Homo sapiens: one gene and its partners. The protein of the gene in region 4 purifies or fractionates together with the protein of the main gene of each other region. This does not show direct contact. Each region holds a gene or a part of one and is shown on either strand. Other genes may lie near its edges.

Evidence for each region.
Region 1: the proteins of MTM1 (region 4) and RCN1 purify together in Homo sapiens (affinity purification with mass spectrometry, with the first as the bait; 2 studies listed by BioGRID). This does not show direct contact.
Region 2: the proteins of MTM1 (region 4) and KRT5 purify together in Homo sapiens (affinity purification with mass spectrometry; 2 studies listed by BioGRID and IntAct, with this or other methods). This does not show direct contact.
Region 3: the proteins of MTM1 (region 4) and RELCH purify together in Homo sapiens (affinity purification with mass spectrometry; 2 studies listed by BioGRID and IntAct, with this or other methods). This does not show direct contact.

Annotation. Positions count from the first base shown.
Region 1 is NC_000011.10:32,094,068-32,101,106, reverse strand, and holds part of RCN1 (reticulocalbin-1 precursor), read right to left. Parts: intron 3,964-7,039; coding exon 3,770-3,963; intron 2,758-3,769; coding exon 2,579-2,757; intron 560-2,578; coding exon 499-559; intron 1-498. UniProt on the Homo sapiens protein: May regulate calcium-dependent activities in the endoplasmic reticulum lumen or post-ER compartment.
Region 2 is NC_000012.12:52,514,056-52,517,414, reverse strand, and holds the end of KRT5 (keratin, type II cytoskeletal 5), read left to right. Parts: intron 1-182; coding exon 183-308; intron 309-557; coding exon 558-778; intron 779-1,582; coding exon 1,583-1,617; intron 1,618-2,174; coding exon 2,175-2,473; 3' UTR 2,474-2,840; downstream 2,841-3,359. UniProt on the Homo sapiens protein: Required for the formation of keratin intermediate filaments in the basal epidermis and maintenance of the skin barrier in response to mechanical stress.
Region 3 is NC_000018.10:62,260,243-62,267,281, reverse strand, and holds part of RELCH (RAB11-binding protein RELCH), read right to left. Parts: intron 5,772-7,039; coding exon 5,624-5,771; intron 3,294-5,623; coding exon 3,137-3,293; intron 2,554-3,136; coding exon 2,430-2,553; intron 582-2,429; coding exon 533-581; intron 1-532. UniProt on the Homo sapiens protein: Regulates intracellular cholesterol distribution from recycling endosomes to the trans-Golgi network through interactions with RAB11 and OSBP.
Region 4 is NC_000023.11:150,634,582-150,641,620, forward strand, and holds part of MTM1 (myotubularin), read left to right. Parts: exon of another isoform or gene 1-4,180; intron 4,181-4,361; coding exon 4,362-4,445; intron 4,446-6,687; coding exon 6,688-6,837; intron 6,838-7,039. UniProt on the Homo sapiens protein: Lipid phosphatase which dephosphorylates phosphatidylinositol 3-monophosphate (PI3P) and phosphatidylinositol 3,5-bisphosphate (PI(3,5)P2). Has also been shown to dephosphorylate phosphotyrosine- and phosphoserine-containing peptides.

The DNA of each region.
Region 1 (7,039 bases), on a different chromosome or scaffold from region 4:
TGCACTCTGTAAAGCATTTATCTTTCTAAGAAGAATGCCTTTCTGCAAAGTGCTCAGACACATAAACAGTTCTGTTAATCACAGCTGCATCTACTCAGAGTTTCTAGGCTCCATTGACCCAGTCCAGTTTTAGAGGCTTTGCCCTGACACTGTCTCCTCTATCTTCACTGTAAATCTATGGGATCTCCAATGTCCTTTTGCAAAGGTAAAACTAGGCAGTGTGATGAAGGGCACCTCTCAGAGTCATGGGGCCAACTGTTGGCCAGCCTTGTGTAGGGCCAGCCTTTTCATCTCTTCTCCACTGAATGAGGCCTAATAATACTTCCCTGATACTACATCACTAGGGCTGATGGGACAAGCAGGCTGGAAGCTCCCAGGAGTGACGTATAGACTTGCAGCTGTTGCTAAAAGAGACGTCTGGGGAAAGTAGCCAGACGTGTGGGTGGGGTCATGTGGCCCAGTCAGGACAGCTGAGCAAGACTCTAGGTCAGTACTCACCAATATACTCATCCTGATCCACAAACCCATCCCCGTTCTTGTCGATGTCCTCCAGGGTTTCCTAGGAAGCAAAAGGTAAAACAGAATGCAAGATGGCCATGTGCTCTAAGAAGTCTGAGAATTCTATTGTCCTCATTTGTCCAGCTTTTACGGCTGAATGCTTGGTGACTTCTGGCTCATCGCCTTACTTCCCTGGGAACTAGTTTTTTATCTGTAAAAAACAGGCAATAGTTTCTGTTCCTAATCCCCCACCCCAGTTTCCAGAGCAGAATGCTTTCTTCAAAGCAAGCAAGATGTACCTGTAACCCCAGAGGTGCTCTGACGATATCAGGAGGCCCTGCCAGGCCAACTAACTCCACCATCCAGCCAAAACACCCACTGGGGAACATGCGAGAAACCCAGTGTGAGAACCACTGGATTAGATGACCACAAGAATAGACTCTAGTGCTAACAGGACTATGAATACTGAGTTGGTGTCAAGAGAAATGTGAAACAGTGGGCAACTAAAAAATAAAAGTATATCTGACTTTTTGATGTATTGTGCTCTGTATTTAGTATACTTGACCTCTTATTCAGTATTTTTTGATTGGGTCAATAATTAAATGAGTTTACTGTTCATTGGCACAGCAACTCAGAGGCATCCTGGGTCAAACCAAAGAGCCAACCTGAGAGCAGAGAGCCACTCCCAAAGGCTCGTAGTCTACTCGGGATCATTCACCACCTGCACTGTCCTCTGCCACATTAGCTAACACTACATGAATGTTGAGTGGTAAAGAGAAATGATTCTTGGAGCCACTGCCCAGTCCTTACAGTCATGGCAGTCAGGAGGATGAAGCATGAGTGGACCCTTCCACCACCTGGATAACTAAAACCATCCACAGCTCGTGTAAACAAAAGCTCTAGCCATCTGTTTCCCAGGATTGAAACAGTTGGAACTGGGTTGGTGCATCTGCCCAGGAAAACAGGTGATGGCATTTATTTAATTGTCATGGAAAATGAAGACATTTGGGACCCAACAAGACACTACGGAAAGCAACTACATTCTGAGGCCTTACAAGCATAGTCATTCCTCAAAGCCTAGGGCCTGATCCACCCACCCTCCAAAGACCCACCCGCTAAGGGTAGCATCTCTTCCAGCCATAATTTTTACTTTACATTTCCATACAGTTTTAACAATCCAATTCATTCCATTTCTGAGTCTTTTTCCAAGTCCCTTAAAATTGAAAAATGGGGCAGAGACTAGCTAGTTGCTCACTTAAGCCATTTGCTCTTTCTTTTTTTTTTTTTTGAGAAGGAGTCTCACCCTGTCGCCCAGGCTGGAGTGCAATGGCACGATCTCGGCTCACTGCAACCTCCGCCTCCTGGGTTTAAGCGATTCTCCTGCCTCAGCCTCCCAAGTAGCTGGGATTACAGGCACATGCCACCATGCCTGGCTAATTTTTTTTGTATCTTTAGTAGAGACAGCATTTCAACATATTGGCCAGGCTGGTTTCAAACTCCTGACCTCATGATCCGCCTGCCTCGGCCTCCCAAAGTGCTGGGATTACAGGCGTGAGCCACTGTGCCTGGGCCCCATTTACTCTTTCTAGGCACGTATCTAAACTGTATTTCCCAGCCTCTTCATATCTAGGAGGGACCAGTGGAACATACGTGAAGGGGATGTGTCATTCCCTGGCCGGAAGAGTAAACAAAGACTGTATCTTCTCATTCCCTCTCTTTTCCTTTGTCAGCCAGCTGGGTGTTGCCAGGATGACTTTGAAGCTACAAGATGGCAGAGCACAAGCAGGAGTGCTTAGAGGAGAACTGGGTACCCAACTGTGCTCAGAGAACAGCCCAGGAGGTCCATCTGGCTGGAACAAGCTTTGCTAGTGTTAAATGGCTACAACTGGGGGCTATCTGTTACAGCAGCCAGCCTGACCTGACTAATTTTCTGGGTAGACGGGGATTCCAACAAACTCTACTTCAGAGTCCTTCTCCAATTCCCTTCAGGCTGAAAAATCTTCTCTCTTTGGAAGAGACAAGATTTGGAGGCAGTTTTCTCCCTGGTCTCTTCCCAGCCCAGACTCTTCACTTATCTTACCAAAACCACAATTTCCTTCATATGTTCAAACTCTTCAGGATGCAGAAAGGCAGTGAACTCCTCCCGAGTAGCTGTCAGGTCACCATTGAGGTCTGCAGCTTTGAATCTTCTCTCATCACGTGGCAGCATCTTTTTAAAGGTGTGATGATCTGAAGAATCATGAAACTCTGCGGGGTTTCCTGCAGGATGTATGTATGCAGAAATGTTTTTAAACCGTGCGGTCAAGAAAGGCGTTTCCTGCCAGATCACTCATCCTGCATGCTCAAATGGTACATATAGGGAAAAAAGGTCCCGACCTACTGAGTTCTTTAAAACATTCTATGTCAGAATGCCTCTAATATCAGTCCCTTCAAGCCACCCCATAATCTAGGCCTCATGGCATATTAGGGGAATTACTGCAAGTGGTTAAGAGCGCAGGCTTTAGACTATATTACTGCCATACTTCTCTTTGCAGAACTCTACTTTCATCATCTCATTCTTAGATCTGGAACATACAGAGGCTCTTTGGTACCCAAAACATCTTGTCTCAACGCCGTGCCTGGCTTTCAAGATCTCCCCGATTCTGGCCGCGTGAGTGCATCTTTGGTTCTCCTTGGGCCTGTTTCTTTGCCAACCTCACCATGCACCCAGCAGGTCTGCACCCCGTGCCTCTGTAATCTCATTTCTCCTTCCTTCTCCCGATCTTGTTTGTCTTGGATCTAAACCCTTCCCATTACTGCATGCATTGCTGCATCTTTGCCCCTCCAGTTGACCCACCTTCTCCAAATATAAATCCATTCTCCAAGGCTCCAGTTTCCAAACCACCCACACCAGGAAGCCTTCCCTGACTGCTCCGGCCCACTCAATCCTTGCTATCCAGAATTAGGCAGCATTTTGAAAATATACCACAGACACACTTCCTTTCTGCTTTCTTCTCCGTGTGTGCATCTGAGACGAAGTTGAGATGGGGTCTCAATCTAAGGGATTTTTTTTATTAGCCCTCACAGCCCTTCCCTCCCACCTGTAACTTCATTCAGTGTAAGCAACTCAGTACATTCTGAGTTTACAGAGGAGGGTGTTATACAAGCAGGTTCTACTTAGGAGGCTGTGACATCTCCCTGAAGGGAGTGGATATGATAAGAGAAGAGAGAGTCTACAAAAAGCTTGTGATCTGGGCCCCCACTGTGTCATCGCTCCTGCAGCACCTCTTACCTAGGTAGTAACCATAGGTGGCTTGTTTGTATTCTTCCCAGGAAATTTTATCATCCTTGTCCCTATCATAATCCTTCCAGACTTTGGCGACATTATCAAAGATGTATCTTTTCTGCACCCGTTTGATCCAGGTTTTCAGCTCCTCAGTAGTGACAAAGCCATCCCCATCATTGTCGATTCGATCAACAATCTTCCTGCAGTACAAAAAAAAAAAAAAAGAAACCCACACACAGGCACAAGGCTGTTATATTATCAAGGCTTGTGTGATGCTGGTCCAGCAAAAGATCAAACACCTGCACAATCCAAAATGCACATACAACTACAACAGAATCAATGATCCAAGGAGGCTGGAAGGAATCTTCAAGTTTATCCTTCCAAGGTTGATGTGCTTTCCCCCAACCAGTGCTGATGGCAGACACTGCTAATGGATCGTGCCCCTCTGTCCTGATAAACCTAGAGGTGCTCTCAGAATTCTCAGCACTGTGCTCTGGTGATGGCCATTATCAACGGATCAGAGCTGATCTGTAAGATGAAACCTATTAATCTTCCCTGCTGTAGTCCAGCACCCTCATTTTGGAGTAACGGAAACTGAGGCCCAGAGAAATGGAATAACTTCTAAGATTACACAGCCAGTATTTGGTAAAACTGGGGTGAGAACTCATGTCTTCTGGCTTAGGTCCAAGGCAAAAAGTGGAAACTGTATGTAAATCAAAAGATAAGTGATTTTTTTTTTTAAATCCCACCACCATGGATACAAAGACTTGAAACGTAAAGCAAGAAGACACCAGATGGTGGACACAGCACAAATGTCAGGGCTGAAGGAGCCTTGACATCATAGAATCTATTCACAAAACTTGACCAGCTGATCCGCTCTAGGAACCTTAAACCCTCTGCTCTTAGGGTAAAGACTCCTATACCAGCTCCACAGCTGGCCTAGGTTTCACAAATTTCCCACTGAACTCCACTGAGGTACCCTAAATGCTAGCCCAGAGCAAACTTCAGGCTGGGAACCCACTTTTGTCATCTCTAGACCAGATGGTCCCAAACCAGGACAGCATCCCAGTGGGGAACTTCAAAAACACCTCCAAGCTATCCCCAGTGTTTAAAAAAGTTTCACCCTTGTAGTCCATTTATCTGGGAGGAGGTCATACAGGCTAACTCTAGATTTCTTTCTTTGTTTTGGGCTGGAATTCTAACAGCTTCAGTGGTAAAACTTTCTTGTCAACAGACATTCTGAGTGGCAATTAATCTTTAATTAATAAAAAATGGGAAACAAATTCATCAGTTTGATAGTTTGACAGAGAAAATCTCCTATAACTTTTTTTTAGGTGGGGGAGGGTGTACACGAGAAGGGGAGGAGTGAATAATCAATGTCTCCACCTCCTACCTGAACCCAAGAACCCAAGCTCCTCTTTCTCAGGAAGGTGTAAACATCACCAACAGCTTGAAAGTACCCCTTCATTTGCAAGTTTAACAGGTCTCAATCCTAAAAGATAGGCTGGATCTGTGATCCCAGTGCTTCAGGAGGCTGAGGTGGGAGGACTGAGGTAGGAGGCCAAGAGTTTGAGAGTAGCCTGGGCAACATAGTGAGATCCTGACTCTACAAAAAATTTAAAAATTAGCCAGGAATGGCCGGGCATGGTGGCTCACGCCTGTGGTCCCAGAACTTTGGGAGGCCGAGGCAGGTGGATCATGAGGTCAGGAGATCCAGACCATCCTGGCTAACACGGTGAAACCCCGTCTCTACTAAAAATACAAAAAAATTAGCCAGGTGTGGTGGCGGGTGCCTGTAGTCCCAGCTACTCGGGAGGCTGAAGCAGGAGAATGGCGTGAACCTGGGAAGCTGAGCTTGCAGTGAGCCGAGATCACGCCACTGCACTCCAGCCTGGGCGACAGGGCAAGACTCCGTCTCAAAATAAAAAAATTAGCCAGGAATGGTGATGCATGCCTGTAGCTCCAGCTACTCAGGAGGCTGAGGTGGGAGGATTGCCTGAGCCCAGGAGGTCGAGGCTGCAGTGTGAGCTATGACTGTACCACTGTAAACAAGCCTGGGCAACAAATCAAGACCCTGTCTTTAAAAAAAAAAAAAAAGACTAAAACATGAAACTTCAAGTGTCTTCAGGCTTCTTCCCCCAGGAAATCATAGCCAGACACAGCAGAATTCTTTTAACATTGTGCAGTGTTGAGCCCAGTTATGTGCCAAGCACTGCTCTGATCCTGGGGACACAGTGGAGACATGCCAGTGGGTTACCCAACGCCAACTGGGAAACATAATCTCAGGGTAATGACATCAGACTCTACAATCCTCTTTTGTGGAAAGGACAGCATCTAATCTATGCCAAATAAACATCTAGGACATAGCTCAGCCTGACAAATATTAGGGACTCAATAAATATTTGTTGTAAGAATAAATAAGATCTTAACCTTCTCTTTAACAATGTCAAGGGAGATCCTGGGAAAGGCAGCTAGGATGGAGATGAAGCCTAGCACTTTCATCAGAACACCTGGATCCCCGTCCTGCCTCTGGTCCCCATTATCTGCGTGATCTTGGGCAAGTGTCTTGACTCTCTGAGTTTCCCCATCTGTAAACTGAACACCTACTTCACAAGGAATGTTGTGAGGAATAAAGGAGAGAATGCATGCTTTTCCTCACTAAAGACAATAATCTAGATCAGTGGCTGATGGTAGCTGCTACACAGTAGCCATTCGGGTGTTTGTTGCATGAATAAATGAATGAAGTTAAGGTGTTGATGCAAGGAGCAAACCCAGACCAACTCCATCATCATTTGTTCTCAACACCAACAGGTAACAGAATGAGCAAAACCTTTTGATGGGACCTATGGCCACTTGGAGGTACCCTGCTAGCCGCCAAATAGGGCTGGCCGACTCTGCTGCAGACGATGACTGACACATGGGAATAAAGGTGTCAAGAGAAGCCAGATATGGGGGTCTGTATGTGAAACCATTCAAACTTTAAACGTGGGCAAGTAATTTACACTGTGTCGCATATTTATGAATGCATGCAGCCTACGGGTTCCCACTTTGCAACCTCTGGTCCAGGTGTCTTTAGGGGCCTTAGAGCTGTCACATTTTCAGGACTGACAGGTGATGGTGACAAAGTTGCCTAGATCCAGCCACACTCATTCCTCCTCAGCCCAATCTTGGAGGGGACCACTGAAACAGAAGCTTTGGACAGAGGGGCAGCTTCTCACACTCAGCCCCATCCCAAACAGGACCCATAATTTCCAGCACCTCCTACCCCGCCTCTAC
Region 2 (3,359 bases), on a different chromosome or scaffold from region 4:
CACTCTGAATCTCACACCAGTGTCTCCAGGAGAGCAAAGGCACTAGACTAGCTCAGCCTTGGAAAAGCCTGAACCAGCCCCACACTATTTGCCACCACTTAGTACTCACTGCCTGTGAACTTTGGGAAAGTTCTTCCCATTCTCATATAAACAGAATCTTTCCTCTTTCCTGGCTGCATCAGTATGAGGAGCTGCAGCAGACAGCTGGCCGGCATGGCGATGACCTCCGCAACACCAAGCATGAGATCTCTGAGATGAACCGGATGATCCAGAGGCTGAGAGCCGAGATTGACAATGTCAAGAAACAGGTAGGGTGAGATTGAAAGAGGGCAAGGAAGGGGCCTGAGTTCTAAAAGAAACACCTACTTTGTTTTATTTTGTTTTACTTTTGCTAAACACACGCAGCTAGATCCAGTACCAGTGTTTCAGTGTCCTGCCACCCACGATGTACTGGTTTCTCTCTGGGATTCATGATAGTTTGGTTTGTCTGACCCAGAAACTCAGAAGGAGACACCTCAGGTCCCAAGCAACCCCACTCTCCTCCTTTCTATCTGTAGTGCGCCAATCTGCAGAACGCCATTGCGGATGCCGAGCAGCGTGGGGAGCTGGCCCTCAAGGATGCCAGGAACAAGCTGGCCGAGCTGGAGGAGGCCCTGCAGAAGGCCAAGCAGGACATGGCCCGGCTGCTGCGTGAGTACCAGGAGCTCATGAACACCAAGCTGGCCCTGGACGTGGAGATCGCCACTTACCGCAAGCTGCTGGAGGGCGAGGAATGCAGGTGAGTAGACAGCATGAACTCAAGATGGCCTTCAGCTGATAAAGCGAAGCTGCTCTACTGTGGGGTGTACAACACACATACATGAGATCAGTGACTTGTGCGTGATAATGACACATCATCAACACTATTTCAGTCTGACTCATGGCCATATAGCTGACCTCAACTCACTTTTCTGGTCTCTTTTCCCCCACCGGTGTTCCTGGGCACTGGCTGTCCTCCAAGCACCTGAGCAACTCAGCAATCTTCTTGACACTTGTGCCTTTTCTGCTTTTGCTCACGTCCTTTGCTCAACCTCAATATCCATGTCATGCCCACCTCCATCCACCCTTGTCCTCCAGTACCCCTTCCTTCAGGAAGGCTTTCATGTTTACTCCAGCTGAGTTAAACTCAGCTACCTTTGGATTGTCAAACTACTGTTTGCTTCAACCTCTGACATTGCCCATTGCCTACTTTCTGTTGGAGGAATTTCTGTCCGTGCCAAGTTCTCTCACAGAATGTAACTCCTACAAGGCAAAAACTGCTTTCGACATAATCACATTTTCCAAATCTCTTATACTTTCCCCATAGTGGGTGGAGAAGAATGTGAATTATAATTCTTTCCTAACAACTTGTTTCTAGGTCAATCCCTCTTCATTGGAAAATCCCTCTGGAGAGTTCTCCCTTCCTTTAACTTAAGCAGCTTTTGGGTGTACAGACTCCTGGCTTATGGAATGAACTCGAATCATGAGGATGGGAGTTAGCCACATAGACTAATGCTGTCTTTTTGGGAGCTGTTAACCCTTAATTCAATTTTTCCCCTTTCAGACTCAGTGGAGAAGGAGTTGGACCAGTCAACATCTGTAAGTAGCTTTGAACAGACATTAACAACGACAATAATATGGGATATATTTAGTGCCAACTCAGAATTCTGCTGTTTCTAGATCCAAACTTTTCCCATCCCAGCATATGGTTATTTATAATAATACACTTAGTAAGTTGTGGGTGGTGGAGGGGAAGGACAGATTGGGACAGGAAGCAATGTGGCTTATGTCTCATCTCTTAAAGGGTAAGCCATGCATCCTATGCTTCTTGGACCCTGTCCCCTGCCTTGTCCCTAGTACCTAGCTCCCCCCAGTACCTAGCTCCTCCCCTCAGTACCTAGCTCCCCTCAGTACCTAGCTCCCTGTAGTACCTAGCTCCCCTCAGTACCTAGCTCCTCTCAGTACCTAGCACCTTGCCTCTTACACTCACCCACTTTTTTAGGGACCTTAATTAAATGACAGTTCTTCCGGGCCTTGTTTGCTACTCTGTAAAGGGGGTCCAGTAGAGTGCTCCAACACCAGCAGATCAAATAAATGGGCCATGCAGGATCAGCCTGGCAGATGGTCTCACTGAGTCCTCCCTCCTTTCCCTGCAGCTGTTGTCACAAGCAGTGTTTCCTCTGGATATGGCAGTGGCAGTGGCTATGGCGGTGGCCTCGGTGGAGGTCTTGGCGGCGGCCTCGGTGGAGGTCTTGCCGGAGGTAGCAGTGGAAGCTACTACTCCAGCAGCAGTGGGGGTGTCGGCCTAGGTGGTGGGCTCAGTGTGGGGGGCTCTGGCTTCAGTGCAAGCAGTGGCCGAGGGCTGGGGGTGGGCTTTGGCAGTGGCGGGGGTAGCAGCTCCAGCGTCAAATTTGTCTCCACCACCTCCTCCTCCCGGAAGAGCTTCAAGAGCTAAGAACCTGCTGCAAGTCACTGCCTTCCAAGTGCAGCAACCCAGCCCATGGAGATTGCCTCTTCTAGGCAGTTGCTCAAGCCATGTTTTATCCTTTTCTGGAGAGTAGTCTAGACCAAGCCAATTGCAGAACCACATTCTTTGGTTCCCAGGAGAGCCCCATTCCCAGCCCCTGGTCTCCCGTGCCGCAGTTCTATATTCTGCTTCAAATCAGCCTTCAGGTTTCCCACAGCATGGCCCCTGCTGACACGAGAACCCAAAGTTTTCCCAAATCTAAATCATCAAAACAGAATCCCCACCCCAATCCCAAATTTTGTTTTGGTTCTAACTACCTCCAGAATGTGTTCAATAAAATGCTTTTATAATATAAGCTGGTGTGCAGAATTGTTTTTTTTTTCTAGGTTTACAATCAGCCTAGAGATACCATGAGGGTCAGTCTACCCAGATGTGATTGGTTCTTTTGATGATTCACAGGGAGAATGGGATAACATTTAAGGGAAAGTGGCTATTGGGGGTGGCCCAGAGACTCCAAGAAGCACAGAGATTATAAAGTCTCTGCAATGAAGGAGTCTCTGGAGGGCATTAACGGGCATGTGCATTGTACTACAATTTAGACAGATTTTAGAGCCTTTTGTTAAAGAGGGCCCTATGCAAGGTGAGATGATTTGCAAGTAGCAGCATATTTGGGCTTAAGTAAAGTTTGTAAATGAAGAATATGTTGCCTTCAGGACCTCAAAAGACCTAAAAGATGTTGGTCCTATTGTAATATTGTGGGCGCTAAGATGCTCAATAGCTATTTTTTGACAGTGTCAGGGATGGAGTAGCTCTTGGTTTACCAAATAATTTCTGAAATTTAATGTGGCAGGACTTTGCATGACCTGTGGGACAA
Region 3 (7,039 bases), on a different chromosome or scaffold from region 4:
AAACAAGTCCTTAGGCCAATGGTACCATAACTAGACTCGTTAAAGTAGATGAGTGAAAACTATCAATGAAGTAGCTGGAGCTACCCATTCAAGTCTGTAGTTTCTCTCATGTTTCATTTTGAAAACATATATGCTTATATACCGTTCTTTTCCACTATGTTTAATTTTTAAAAGTATTATAGAACTAATTAGGAATTAGATGCAGCTTATTTTATAATTGTCAGTCTCTTGAATATACTACTTCAGACCTCTAAAGGTTGAGTACCCAGGTTGTAAAGCTCAGCCTTATATCAATTTGGTTACAATGAAGGTATATATTCACAATCAGATTGACAGGGATTAATCTCACTGCCACTAATGGGAAGGATATTAGATGTGACACAGTTATAAAACCAAGAACTCCATAATATAAGTTTTCCTTTTCAATTGTAGTTGCTAGTTCATTTATACAATTTACATATATGGAGAATATAGTATTTTTCCTGCATAAAGAAATGCAATTGTTTTTAAAAGTAATAATGAACAAACTCACCAATGTTTTCTTCAGATAGTCTTAAAATCTCCTGGAACTGAGGTTTTACCTAAGCAACCCAAAGAGAAGATTCAAAAAGTCTCAGGTTCAATGGGCAAATTGATTAAATGAAATGTTTACTACTGTTGCTACTACTATTCATTTATTTATTTAGCTTTATAGATGACTAAGTTAAGTGGTCAGAAATGTAATAATTCTTAATCATGAGGCTTAGGATAGAAGAGTCAAATTAATGAAAATAAAAACTTTAAGGATAAATTTTTGAAAAAATCAACTCAAGTCAACAAGTGAATGGCCTCTGGTTTCTTTTATTAAATTAAAATAATTTCCAATATGATTTTAAGTGGTTGAAATTACTGCCTTCTAAAACTGAACTTGGTTATAGAAGGATTATTTAGGTAGATATTACATGGTTAGAATTATCGAAAAAAGCATTTGCCTGTATTTTTAAAAAACGAAAAGGAAATTCCAGTCACTTCAGGTGTTTAGTAAGTAACATATTCATCCTGTGATATTTATGTTCATCTTTTATTACAACTTTTCAAATTGAAATATGAAATACAGAATTTAACTTTAATATGTTAAGTTAGAACAGAGGTTTGTTTAAATTTTTTATTATTAAAATTATCACAGATTTCAGGCCACTGAAGACAACCACTTACTGTTAAGTACATAAGTAGATTCCTACTTGCTTTTCTAAAAAAAAAAATAGCTACTTGTTTTGGAGATATCAAACAATTTTTGCCAATATTGATAACAGGAAAATCAAATTATATTTGTTTAACAACTGAATGCTAGTGAAAAATACAAAATAATTTTAATTTTCTTTTTCCTACAATAACATCAAGGTCTGGTTTTTGCCCTCCTCTCTGTAGGTGAGGCACATTAATTTATATATTTAGCTTAAACTGAGAGAAAGGCCAATGTTAAAAGGTTCATGTACTGAATTGCGCTAAGAGAATTAAAAGACACTGAAGCAAATTCTTCATTTCACACATGAAAAGACTAAGCCCACATAATTTAACTTAAATAGTAAAGATCATAAACATTAGTCAACAGATAATAGGACCATAACCCAAGTCTTCTGAATTTTGTCCAGTTCCTTATAGCATACTATTTACTTTAAATGTTTCAACTATAGATTTAATAGTAAAGAGCTACACTAAATTAAATTTAATAATTAAAATGCTTACCTTTTAAATGTGTTTATTAACATTTGATTATAGAAACTACACCTTTTTATGTTTTTATTAGCTCTCTAAAGTACTGGCTTAACAAAATGTTATGAAGACAAATGGATTAATAGGATTAATGAATAAATTAGGATCTAATGACATTCCAATGTTAATATTTGAAACTACAAAATAACCTGGATAGGCAAATGTGACAAATGATACTTTTGGTAATGACTGAAACATGTAGAATTTATCTCCAGTGTCCATGCTATTCTAAGAGGTGGCATCTTCGCAGCAAGTTTTATATATAAGTTGCTGTGGTTCCATAATCGCTTGAGGTTTTTACCAAAGTGTGCTGAGCAAACAGCTGCTTCCTGAACCTGTGATAGACAGTAAGTACCAGCAGCACATTCAAAGGATTGTGGTTGAGTTCCCTAGCTGACACTTCCTATATTGAAAATCTTTGAGGATATCTACAATGAGTAAAGCTTATATCCAAGTCTGGATATGAACTAAGCTTAGGCTAAATCATCTTCTGAAAATCAGTAAAGATAAGAATATTACCAACTAGAACTTTTTTTTACTATCATAGTATTCTAGGATATTAAAGAAGCGAATTAGATAAAAGAATGGTTCATGCTTTTATTTACCCTGTTACAGTGTTAACACATTACATTTCTATGTCTTTTTCATATAAGAAAACATGGAATACAAGTTTTTACCTTAGTGTTTGTAAAAATTTTGCCAAATGTCCGGCAAAGGCGCCAGAAAAATCTGGAGAATTCATGGACACAGGCAGTTGAAGTAACATTAATTTTGCCAACTATTTCTATAAGTTGTGGCAACCTGAATATGAAAGGAAAGAAAAATAGGCAGGGGATACATATAAATTACTGTTTCCTTGCCAATTTCTGAAACAATGCAAATCTAATAACCTGTTCTATTTCGTTCTTTGAAAGGAAAGGCATTGTCTGGGACCCTCTGAATAGGTTGTAAGATTACATTATACTGTATAGACTTAAAAAAGTAAATTTTAACTGTTTGCCAGAAAATATATGAAACCTTAATGGTAGAATTCCGAGTACAGAGTTAATGTGACTCAAATCTATGGATCTGATGCTTCACACAAGAGCTTGGCTTTACATGGCATCATTTTAGCCTCAAAAATGAGAAGTCTAGATGTAGTTTAAAATCCATCACCACGATTGGACAAACAAGATGGCAGATAGATCATTCGGATAAAATACAGCAACATCTTCTTCTCAGATAAATTACATATCCAATGGTGTGAATCCTCTGTGTCCTAAAGGTGTTTACCAAAAATGATGCCGAGTTACATTTTAAAAGTTTTGTTATATTTTGTTCTTAGGGCCAAGGCTAAATATAAGAGTTATCATCTATTCAAATTAATATGGAGGTGGTAACTTACAATTGATTGACAACCCACAGTAAACTCTCCCAGCCTGTTGTACCCTCTTGTTCTAGCTGGTAGTCATAAAGTTGCAGCAGCACTGCCAATTGCTCACGACTTCCGATAATAGTGGACACATCTTGAAGAGGCGACATAGGCCGAGGAAACCTAGTCACTACACATAAAAGAAGCAAAATAAATCATATGGAAATTGGCATTTTGGGAACTTAGATATTCTGTTGAAAGGAAAATAAGGTCCTTTCTCCTCATATTTAATTACTTTCTTATTGTAAATTTTAAATATAAAATTGAAATACACTAATTAAGTCATTTTTAGGAAAATCAAGAAATTCCTGTGATATGAGAACAAATCCAACAAATCTCAAAAGATTTTATTCCCACAGCAGAATGTAAGCTCTATGAGCAGAAATTTTTATCTATTTTATTCATGATTGTGTCCTAAGTGTCTAAAACAATGCCTGACATAAATATTTGTTCATGTTGTGTAATAAATTGGTACTAAAAATATTTGTGTGGGTTACCATTTTTATGAGAAAACAAATCTTCATTCATAACAAATTATAACCCAAATTTTATGTGTGTGTATATATAAACGGACATATAGACATATGGATATACCCTAAATAAGGATATAATAAATCCTTATTTATAATAAATACATTATAACCTAAATGAAGGTATAGTAACATTAACATTTATAGCTACTGTTAAAAGTCAGAAAGTTAAACTAAGTCAACAAGAATGAAAAATAAAGGACAATCACAAGAAAAGGTCACATAAATGTTAGAAGGGAATCCCATAAGTATTAGAAGGATATGTTCAGGATGATACTGTTCTATCTAATCTCCAGCATATGCTTGGCAATAGATGACATTTAAGAATCATTTGTTAAATAAATGAGAGAATGATAACAAGTATTATGAGTTGAACTGCCCCCCGCCCAAATTTTTATGTTTAAGTCCTAACCTATAGTATCTCAGAATGGGATCTTATTTGGAAATAGGGTTGCTGTAGATGTAGTTAGACAAGATGAAATCATACTGAAGTAGTCGCTTATCCAACACAACCGATGTCCTTATAAGAAGGGAAAATCTGGACACAGAAACAAGCACACAGAAAGTGTGCCACGTGAAGATAAAGGCAAGGTTTGGGGTGATGCATCTAAAAGCCAAGAAACACTAAAGAGTGCCAGCAAACCACCAGAAGCCAGGGGAGAGCCCAGAACAGCCTTTACCTCGCAGTTTCCCTAAGACTACCCTGCCAACACCTTGATCTCAGACTTCTAAAATTCAGAAGTGTGAGATAATAAATTTCTGTTGTTTAAGCCACTCAGTTGGTGGTCCTTTGTTAAGGCAGCCATAGTAAACGAATACAGAAAGCTAAAAAGAAAAAGGGAATTAGAAAGATAGGAAAATCCCTAGGCAGATGAAATGCCTAAATGAGTAAGAGTAAAGGGGTAGAACCTGAAGTGGCCAGCTGGGAGAGCTTTATGAAGTCTTATCTAAAGTCTGAATTTTCATTCTCCTCAATTTAAAAATGTTAAATTAACTCCACACCATTCATTCTCAATTTTCCAAATAAAACTGACATCCAAATAGTATACACTATTTTTATCATGTGGCTTCATGTATCTTTGGACACACTGCATCATACTCCAAATATTATAGGTAGCCTACAGTTTACATGAAAAATGAAATTCAAGAAGATTGTCTGTTGATGTTCTCAATGTTATAATTCTTTGTCCATTAGACACCAGTAAGAGACATGGATAATTTCACAACTCTGAAAAGGCTGCAAAGGTGCCTGATACATAGCAATAGCTTGTCTATAGCCATTTGTCCTGGACGTTAAGGTGCAACAGGGTTATCAATTGCCTGTCAAGTTTCAAAGGTCATTTACTAGCTACTCGGAGAGTAAGATAAGAAAATACTGGCCTCTCCTGTCAATTTTATGTACTTCTGAAAGTAAGTCACATTTCTTCTTTGGAAAAACACAAATTCTGCCACAGATGCTTTTATATTTCTTTCTATCAAGGACATAGTAGAAAAAAGTAATTATATTTACCTTCCTCTATTAAAAATAAAATTAAAAAGTTGGGGAAGAAAATATAAAGAAAGCAGAAATGACAAGCTTCATATACTGGCACTAGTAACTATTAAAAGAATCTTTTGTTGACTCAGATCTATTAACGGAAGGAAATATTTATTTCAGCCTCCCCAGAAAGGCTATAAAAAGGCTATAGATTAAGAGCAACAAGAAAGTATAAGTATTATAAAATAAGACAATGGGGCTTATCCATAAAAGATGAAGCCATATTGTTTACCATACGTATAATCTTATGACCATGAGATTCTACACACATAATACATTTTAAAAATTATGCTGTCATATAAAGTGATTTTTAGACTTTTAATAAAAAACAATTCTTTGGGAAGCTAGGCTGCTAATATTCTACATTTTTCTTCCAGAATTTAAGTTCAGTACCTTCTATCTGTGGCACTTCACCATGAAGCTTGGCTTTGCTGGAGAAAGGTGCATTCTGTAGCACTAATGCAAAGAGAGATGGGATCAAGGACTGCAAGGCAGAAAGATACATGTGGAGTTTGTGTTCATCCAGTCCATGTTCTCCTTCCTGAAACATAAGGAGGTGGAAGCTAATTTTAGTCTTTTGAAGTTACATTGCTAATTGGATTTATGTATGATGTTCTTCCTTACTGTGGCAAATCAAAGATTTAAGGACCTTTATGTTGGACTCAAACAAGCAGTAAGGCACTCTAGAGTGGTAGAATCTTTTACATGGAAAACTATAGGGTAAACATCAGTCATTTCCATTTGTAGGGAATAGTTTTTGTAATTTTACTTTTTCATTAGAGAAGGTCTTATCTTTTGAAATTTTATAAGACAGGGTAAAGAAATTAAAGTAAGGGACAGGAATCACTTTATCTTTTTTCTTGTTAGAATTGATACATAAATAATTGTACATATTACGGGGTACCATGAGATATTTTGATACAGGCATACAATGTGTAATGATTGAATCAAGGTATTGAGATATGCATCACCTCGAACGTGTATCATTTCTTTGTGTTAGGAACATTCCAAATTTTCTCTTCTAGCTATTTTTCAAATATATAACACATTATTGTTAACTATGGTCACCCTACTGTGCTATCAAACACTAGAATGTATTTCTTCTATCTAACTGTATTTTTCTGTTCATTACTCCCCCAGACCCCAGCTTCTGGTCCATTTCATTCTTTACCTCCTTGAGATCAACTGTTTAAGCTCCCACATGTGAGTGAGAACATTCAATATTTGTCTTTCTGTGCCTGGTTTATTTCACTTAACATAATGTCCTCTAGGCTACCTGCTGCAGCAAACGACAGGATAGCATTCTTTTTTTAATGGCTGAATAATATTCCATTGTTTATATATACCATATTTTCTTTATCTATTCATCTACTGATGGACACTTAGGTTGATTCTATATCCTGACTATTATGAATAGTGCTGTAAGAAATATGTGAGTGCTTGAAACTCAACATGTAAGTCCTTGAAAGTATATATCTTTTCAATATACTGACTTCCTTTCTTTTAGATATATACCCAGTGGTGGGATTGGTGGATTACAGGTATTTCTGTTTTTAGTTTTGTGAGGAACTTCCACACTGTTTTCCATAGTGGCTGTACTAATTTACATTCCTACCAACAGTGTACGAAGGTTCCCCTTTCTCCACACCTTGACCAGCATCTTTTTTTTTTTTTTTGTCTTTTTAATAATAGTCATTTCAACTGGGGTGACATGATACTTCATTTTGGTTTAGATTTGCATTTACCTGATGATTAGTGATGTTAAACACTTCTTCATATAACTTTTGGCCATATGTCTTCTTTTGAGAA
Region 4 (7,039 bases):
CCGGAAACAATGCACATGATTGCTTTAAAAAAAAAAAGTCTCCATGTACAGTATCTCTTGACTAGTACGGATCTAGTGAATTGTGAATTGATGAAATGCCCAAATACTAATATAGAGCAAAATTAAGGAAGACATGACTTGCTCACTTGAGGAAGGTGAGGGTGGCCATTTGAGAGTATCTTCTGTCAGTTTCCTGATTTTGATATTGTGCTAAAAGTTATACAAGATGTTAACACCTGGAGAGGCTGGCTGAAGATTTACTTCTTGTGAATCTATAATTATTTCAAAATAATCTAAAACAAACTAAAGTAGCTCCCCAACAGCTTGACCACACAGAATCCTTAGGCTACATTCCTGAGAGTTCTGGTACATCCCACATGGCCCTTCTAGGACCAAGGAGGTAGAAAGTCACCCCCTAGAGATTCTGATTCAGTAGGGGTGAGGCAGGGCACAGGGCATGGTTTAGCCTCTGGAAAAAGCAGCCCACTTCACCCCCAATTCTGAGGCAGAGCCGTAGATAAGGACCACACCCTAGAAGAAAGCCACGTAGGACTTGCTGAAGCATCTACTGAAAGGTGATGCTCAGCAAAACATCTTCTCTGTCCTAAGACTTTGCTCAATTGGGACTGAATCGTTCTTGAATTTTCCATAGTCGATGAAATCAGTACTTGGACGTGTTCATTGAGTAAGCTTTATCATTACCCATTTAGCAAACAAGACGCGCTTGATGGTTATAGTGGAAAATACTTGAGAGCCAGCTCTCTCCATGTGATTTAGAGTTCCCAAATTAAGGGTCAAAATTGACCCAAGGTTATATTTAAGAATAATAGTTGAAAGTGTCAACACATTAATAAAGTGTTAAAGAATACATTGTCTGGAAGAGAAAGTAAATGACAGCTAAAAACCTCAAGACGTATAACCTATTCACTTCAGGTTTTAACAATTTTGAAATAGGAGCTTTAATTAGGCTTGTAACAAGTTACCACTTGTAGGGGATTTTATGCTTTTTGATAATGAGGTACAGATGAATGTGTTTTGTTATTGCTTTATTTTTGTTTTTGTAATAATCCAACTTTATGTTACTCTGAGAGCCTATATTCTCTTAATCTTTAAGAAAAAAAGAAAATATATCTGAAAAGTAGGTCCTCGTACTTTCAAGTTCAGAAAATGGTGGTATTGGCTCTTTCAGACTGCTCACTTCAATTGAGCCAAGTAGCTTATGGAAAACTTAGTTTTTAAATAAAAACACCACATAAACACTACCTAGTAATGCTTTTTGAAAAATGTTTTTCTGTGTTTGTAAGCTAATTTATTTGAATGGTGAAAATATTGGTTTAAGCACCCAGTCTTTTCTACCCTAAGCTCCAATTTAATATTAGATGTGTTGCTATGTGCTTCACGAGGAGAAATATTTGGCTGTTGTGCGATTCATAATTCTTCCTGAAATATCTGGGGTCCAAGCCTGGCTCTTAGCATCAAGAGTAAACTGGGAGTTGTTTTTGTCACCAATTCTAATAGACATGTTTCGGGTTAAAGGATACCAGTTAGTTGACTCATTCTGGATATTAGTCAGAATGTGAAGTATCATCATAGAAGTGATCTCATCAGAGAGTCCATCTGATGTGTGGTTACCATGGGGACATTGTCTCAGTCTCATACTAATGACAAAAAAAAATTGATGTTGCTTCTGTTCAGGTTCTTTTATAAAACATATTAAGGAAGTTAGGTAGATAATTTTTGTTTAGGCCATATAGCTTTGATTTTCTGATAACAATTTTATAAACTTAGAAATTTTCATGTAAGATACAGGAATACTGGAAGCAAAAAAAAGAAGGTGCTTTAACCTTAGGGATTGAAAAAATAGTAATTTAGGTTGAAAATGCTGCTTGAAAGTTAATGCTGATAGCATTACTACACATGATGATTTTTTCTGGAAGGAAAGCTTTATCTGGGCCTTCAATTTAGGAATTTTTCTCTTTGGTTTTTAAAAGCTGCCATATTCACTTGAGCTTCATGGGAAAGATGCAAATAACTAAAACAAATGAACAAAAACCATGTTGAGGTCAGGAACTTATTTCAAGAAAGCAAGTTCTAGGTTTTCTTTTAAAGTGACAGTAGAGCCTTAGGCCTCAAACCATCTACAACCATGTTAACAGTACATCACTCAAATCATTCAACATTCCTGAATGTTTACCTGTGCCAAGTACTGACCAGCGCAGTATCAGATGTTCACAGTAATGATATATTGCCAAGAGAATGCTTAGGCATGTCCCATATATTCTGTTTATGGATAAAGGAGTGCACCAAACATTTTAGTGCTATTTTCGCCCAAAGTCCCTCTGTCTTTAATTTAAACTTAACAGAAATCACTTATTTTTCCCAGTGGTACTGAATAATTATGCATTGCTGTGGATTCAGTGTCAGGTTAAAGCCTCAGTGCATCGCTTAGCTAGGTCAGCATCATTACCAGTGTGTGCTTATCATGCCAGCCATCCAGAATAAACAGCACTTGGGCCTAGCGCTGCCAGAGTTGAGACCTGCAGAGTGTGCTGCATGCCTGGGAAAGTTTGAGAAGACATTGTGGAGAGCATGTTCTTGGGCAGTTTTCACCTTAAACCTCTTGCCATTCACATGCAGAAAACTGTTGCTGCTGAAAGATGCTTTTCCAGAAATACACTGTGTTGTAGGGGAGGGAACACTGGTGTTCAAAGTGATTAGTCTGATGACAGAGGAAAATGGTTGGGGAGGGAGCTACATAGAGGAAAAGTGCCCAGACGCAGCGCCTCCAGAGAAGATGGTTGTACAGGGGCTGTGTGGGCCTTCATGTCTTCATTCGGTCAGCGAGCCTGTGTTCTGCCTCCCTCTGACCAGGCGCCATTGTAGTTACTGGGGATAAAGGATGGGAATGAAGCAAGTGTGTACTTTCATGGAGCCCATGTCCTAGGGGAGGGGATAGTACATATGTACAGTGAACAAGTACATATGTAATATGTCAAATGGTCATAAGTGATAGGGAAAATCAGATGGGAATAGGGAGTGCTGTTGTGAGGGTAACATGTTTTTTTGTAGGGTGTCGGAGAAGGTCTTACTGATTAAGATTATTGGATCAGAGATGTGAGAGAAGACAAGAAGCCATGAGGTAAACGAATTCCAGGCAGATGGAATAGTAGCCGCAAAGGCCCTGAGAGTGGCATGTGCTTGGTGCCTTTAGGGAGTGGCACAGGAGGCAGGTGTGACTTACGTGGAGCGAGTGAGTCTGAGAGCAGAGATGTGGCGGGGGAGATGGCCAGATGGCAGACAGCTGCATAAGCCATTGGAAGGACTTCCACCTTTACTCCTCGCAAAGTGGAAAGCTACGGGAGGATTTGGGGCAAGGAAAGGACTTGATCTGACCTATGACACTGTCACTCTGACTTGAGAAGTACAAAGATGAAAGCAGGGGAGCAGTTAGGTTTTTATAATCAACCAAGTAAGAGATGATGGTGGCTTGGACCTGGGTGGTAGCCACGTGGTGACAAAGATGAATCCAAGGTTTTCAGCTCAATCAGCTGGAAGTCATGTACTGAAATGGGGAGACTGTGGGAAGAGCAGGACTGGGTAGGGGGAGCCAAGAGTGTTTGGCTTTGGTTGTGTTAACTTGAGAGTTCTTCAGATGCCTCTTAGGCAGTCTGGTGGGGTGGTAGAGTGGACACTTGGATAGCCAAGTCTGGAATTCAGAGGGGATGCTGGAGAATGATAGGTCCTTACTAGTCACTAGAGTATGGATGGTATTTGAAGCTATCAAATGTATCAACAGCACGTTGAGGGTGAGTATATATAGAGAAGAGGTGAGAGGTCTGAGTCCTGCCATTTCACAGAAACCAGGGCATTGATTCAGAATTCACAGAGAACAGTTAGCTCAGAGTTTTCTTAATATCCTATCTTTTTAAAAAATAAACATGTCATTGTTCCCTTTTGAGACAGTTGCACCGTTTAACAATAATTCCTGAATTTTATTTTTCTTCCTTTCCTTCTTTCTTTTTAGTGGCTTGTACCTGATCAATTGCTAATACTGTTTAAAATTGATAGGCACTTTTTGGTCTGGTAATCTGATTTTTTTGTGGAACATCATTAAAAGAACAATTGAGAGATTTATAGCCATAGAAAATTGAGGCTTCTATTACTCAAGATAGAAGTTAGCGTAAGTCTGATCTGAGTTTTCCACTGTTTTTTTTTGTTGTTGTTGTTATAAGCCTTGGTGTGGGTTGTAATTTCATGGTCGGCAAATCTGGTGAAATTTATTTTGCGAGAAATCAAAAGATGTACTATAATAGTAGACTGTTCCTTCACGCTGAACTTTATTTATTTTTTGCCTTTTCTAGCCATTATTTGCATTTTTAAATGAAGAAAAGTTTAACGTGGATGGATGGACAGTTTACAATCCAGTGGAAGAATACAGGAGGCAGGTAAGATGTTAGATGCTATTGTCTGGTATGTGATGAACCTGAAACATGCATTATGACAGTATGTCATCAGCCATGCTTTCTGAAAATCAGCGACATCCTTGCTAAATATCTTTTCAATGGTGGTGATATTATCCACATTTTGTACAATATATCTCATTCTATCTATTACTGTATAACTTATAAGCTCATTCCATTGCCATATGCAAGCTGCATCGAAGACTGGGTCACTAAATCCTATTTCCTTCCCTATATGAAGAGCATCAATTCTGTGTTGTTTATGAAATGAATTAAATACTTAGGATTTAGAAAAGTCAAACATTTTAGAAGTTACACTTTAGGACTTGATATTGCTATGTATATGCATGTTTGGGAGCTTAACTATTACCTGCAGTTAGATTTAAATTATATTCATTTCAGTTTGCAGATTCAAATGAATTAGAACTGTTTTCCTGTAGTGATGTCTTTTTCAAGGAAGCTTTGATAAGTGTACATTATAATTGTCTTTACTGTTCTCTTATATGAATGTCACCTACATGCATGTTTATTTGCTATAATAAAGGCAAGAGGCTTGGTCTCATATTGCTGTTCAGGAACAAAAGTCTCTTGCAGTATTTTTGTTAAGGGAATTCTGTGCATAATATGTAACAAGAGCCACAGTTTGACCTCTGGTATAACCAAATCTGTAGGCAGCTAGGAGTTGTGTGATGGGATTATTCACAATTCTTGTTCTACAAAGCTCTTAAGATAATTGAAAAGTTTTGTTGAATGAGATTTGAGAATCAGATCAAACCCATTTGCTTTATATGAAAAGGTAGTGAATATAAAGTAAAATCGTAGAACCCTAGACTTGAGAAGAACCATCTAGTCACCACCTTCACCATGAAAAACCTGGATTGGTTTCCTTTTTTAGTCTTAATCAACGGTTTGCATATTCATGAACAGATTTGACGCTCTGGAATTTGGGTGCAGGAGTTTAGCTTTAGAACATATGTGACATAGTATATCCTGTTGCTTCCATAAGTCACGTTTAGACTGTTGAGTTTTCTAAGGCTTTGCACTACTCCCATTTTAATGGCCTCAGTTCTGGACTAGCTACTGAGGCGGAAGAAGGACCATGAAAACATTTTGCATGTTTTGGAGACCTCTGTAAATGATGTATTAAAATATTTTTACCTTCTTTTTGAAGTATTACTGATAACATTAAGACTTTTTTTTAGTTCAAAGCTTCTAGCTTGAAACAAAACAGTTCCTGTTTTTAAGATTGCATGCATATATGAACTGTTGAAGGTATTTTGTTCTAGACTGCCATTATATTCAATCTTTTTTTCTTATAACTTTCTGATGGGACTTATAACTGTCTAATTGGACTCAGCATCAGACTCAACATCTGTTTGGTCCGTGGTCTCTAGGGCCAGACCTAAAGAAAAGGTACAATGTCTGTCCCCAAAGCAAACACCCACATAGCTCACTTTTGTGTGTGTATCTGTGCATTTGTGAGAATGGGGAGAGAATATTCCACCACCTCTGGATCTTTTCCATACTAAATACAATTTTGTGGGGGAGATGATAGGATGGGAGGTGTCTTCTGTGTCTCCCTGTCACATTAGCAGTCTGCTTAAAATGCAAATGACTGTATTTCTCACACAAACTATAGGGCAATCATCGATTCCGAACAACTTGATTGAAAAAAAACTCATCGGAGGTGGCGAAATGAGCCTCCCCAGAGGGATCTTCCTTTACTTCCCCTCATGATTTTCTTCATGAGCTCAGCCTCTTTCCACTTTGGAGCAGACTGAAGCATTCACTCTATTTTGAGCAGGGAGAGGAAGTTGCCTGATCTCTTTTCTACCCTCAGTTAGAGCCAGATTAAGATGAAGCAGGGTATTTTTTTAGGGGATGGGAGGGGTGCATGGGCGGGGGATGAACTTGGGTTTATCTGTGTGGTACAGGTAGTAAAGAATATGTGGACACAAAATAAAGGAAGACGAATTCCTTTGAATTCAAGAGAATCTGTATTTACAAAGTATAGTTTAGAACTGTAAAAACCACCAGTGTTTTGTCTTGTGTTCTTACGTTGTCTGGATTATTGATTTGGCACCCTTATTATAAATAGGTAGACCGTCATCACCCTGTGGTCAAAGAGGCATGTGCACATATTGCTAGAAGGAAGAAAAGAGGCCCAAGGCCAAATCCAGAGATGAGGTCAAGCAATACTGACTTGAATTTCTTTTTTTCCTCACAGGGCTTGCCCAATCACCATTGGAGAATAACTTTTATTAATAAGTGCTATGAGCTCTGTGACACTTACCCTGCTCTTTTGGTGGTTCCGTATCGTGCCTCAGATGATGACCTCCGGAGAGTTGCAACTTTTAGGTCCCGAAATCGAATTCCAGTGAGTACTGCAATTAACGTTTCTCTTGAAGAGCACCTTTTAGTCCATAAGAATGGTAGTCATATAACTTAGAGAAACGGTCCTTTTGGAATTCTATCCCAAAAAATACTTACTAAGTGCTTTGTGAGTACAAAGTACCATACCAGACTGGAGAAGAAGTGTGCCGTCACCTGCCTTCTAGGAGCTTGCAACTAAGGATCAA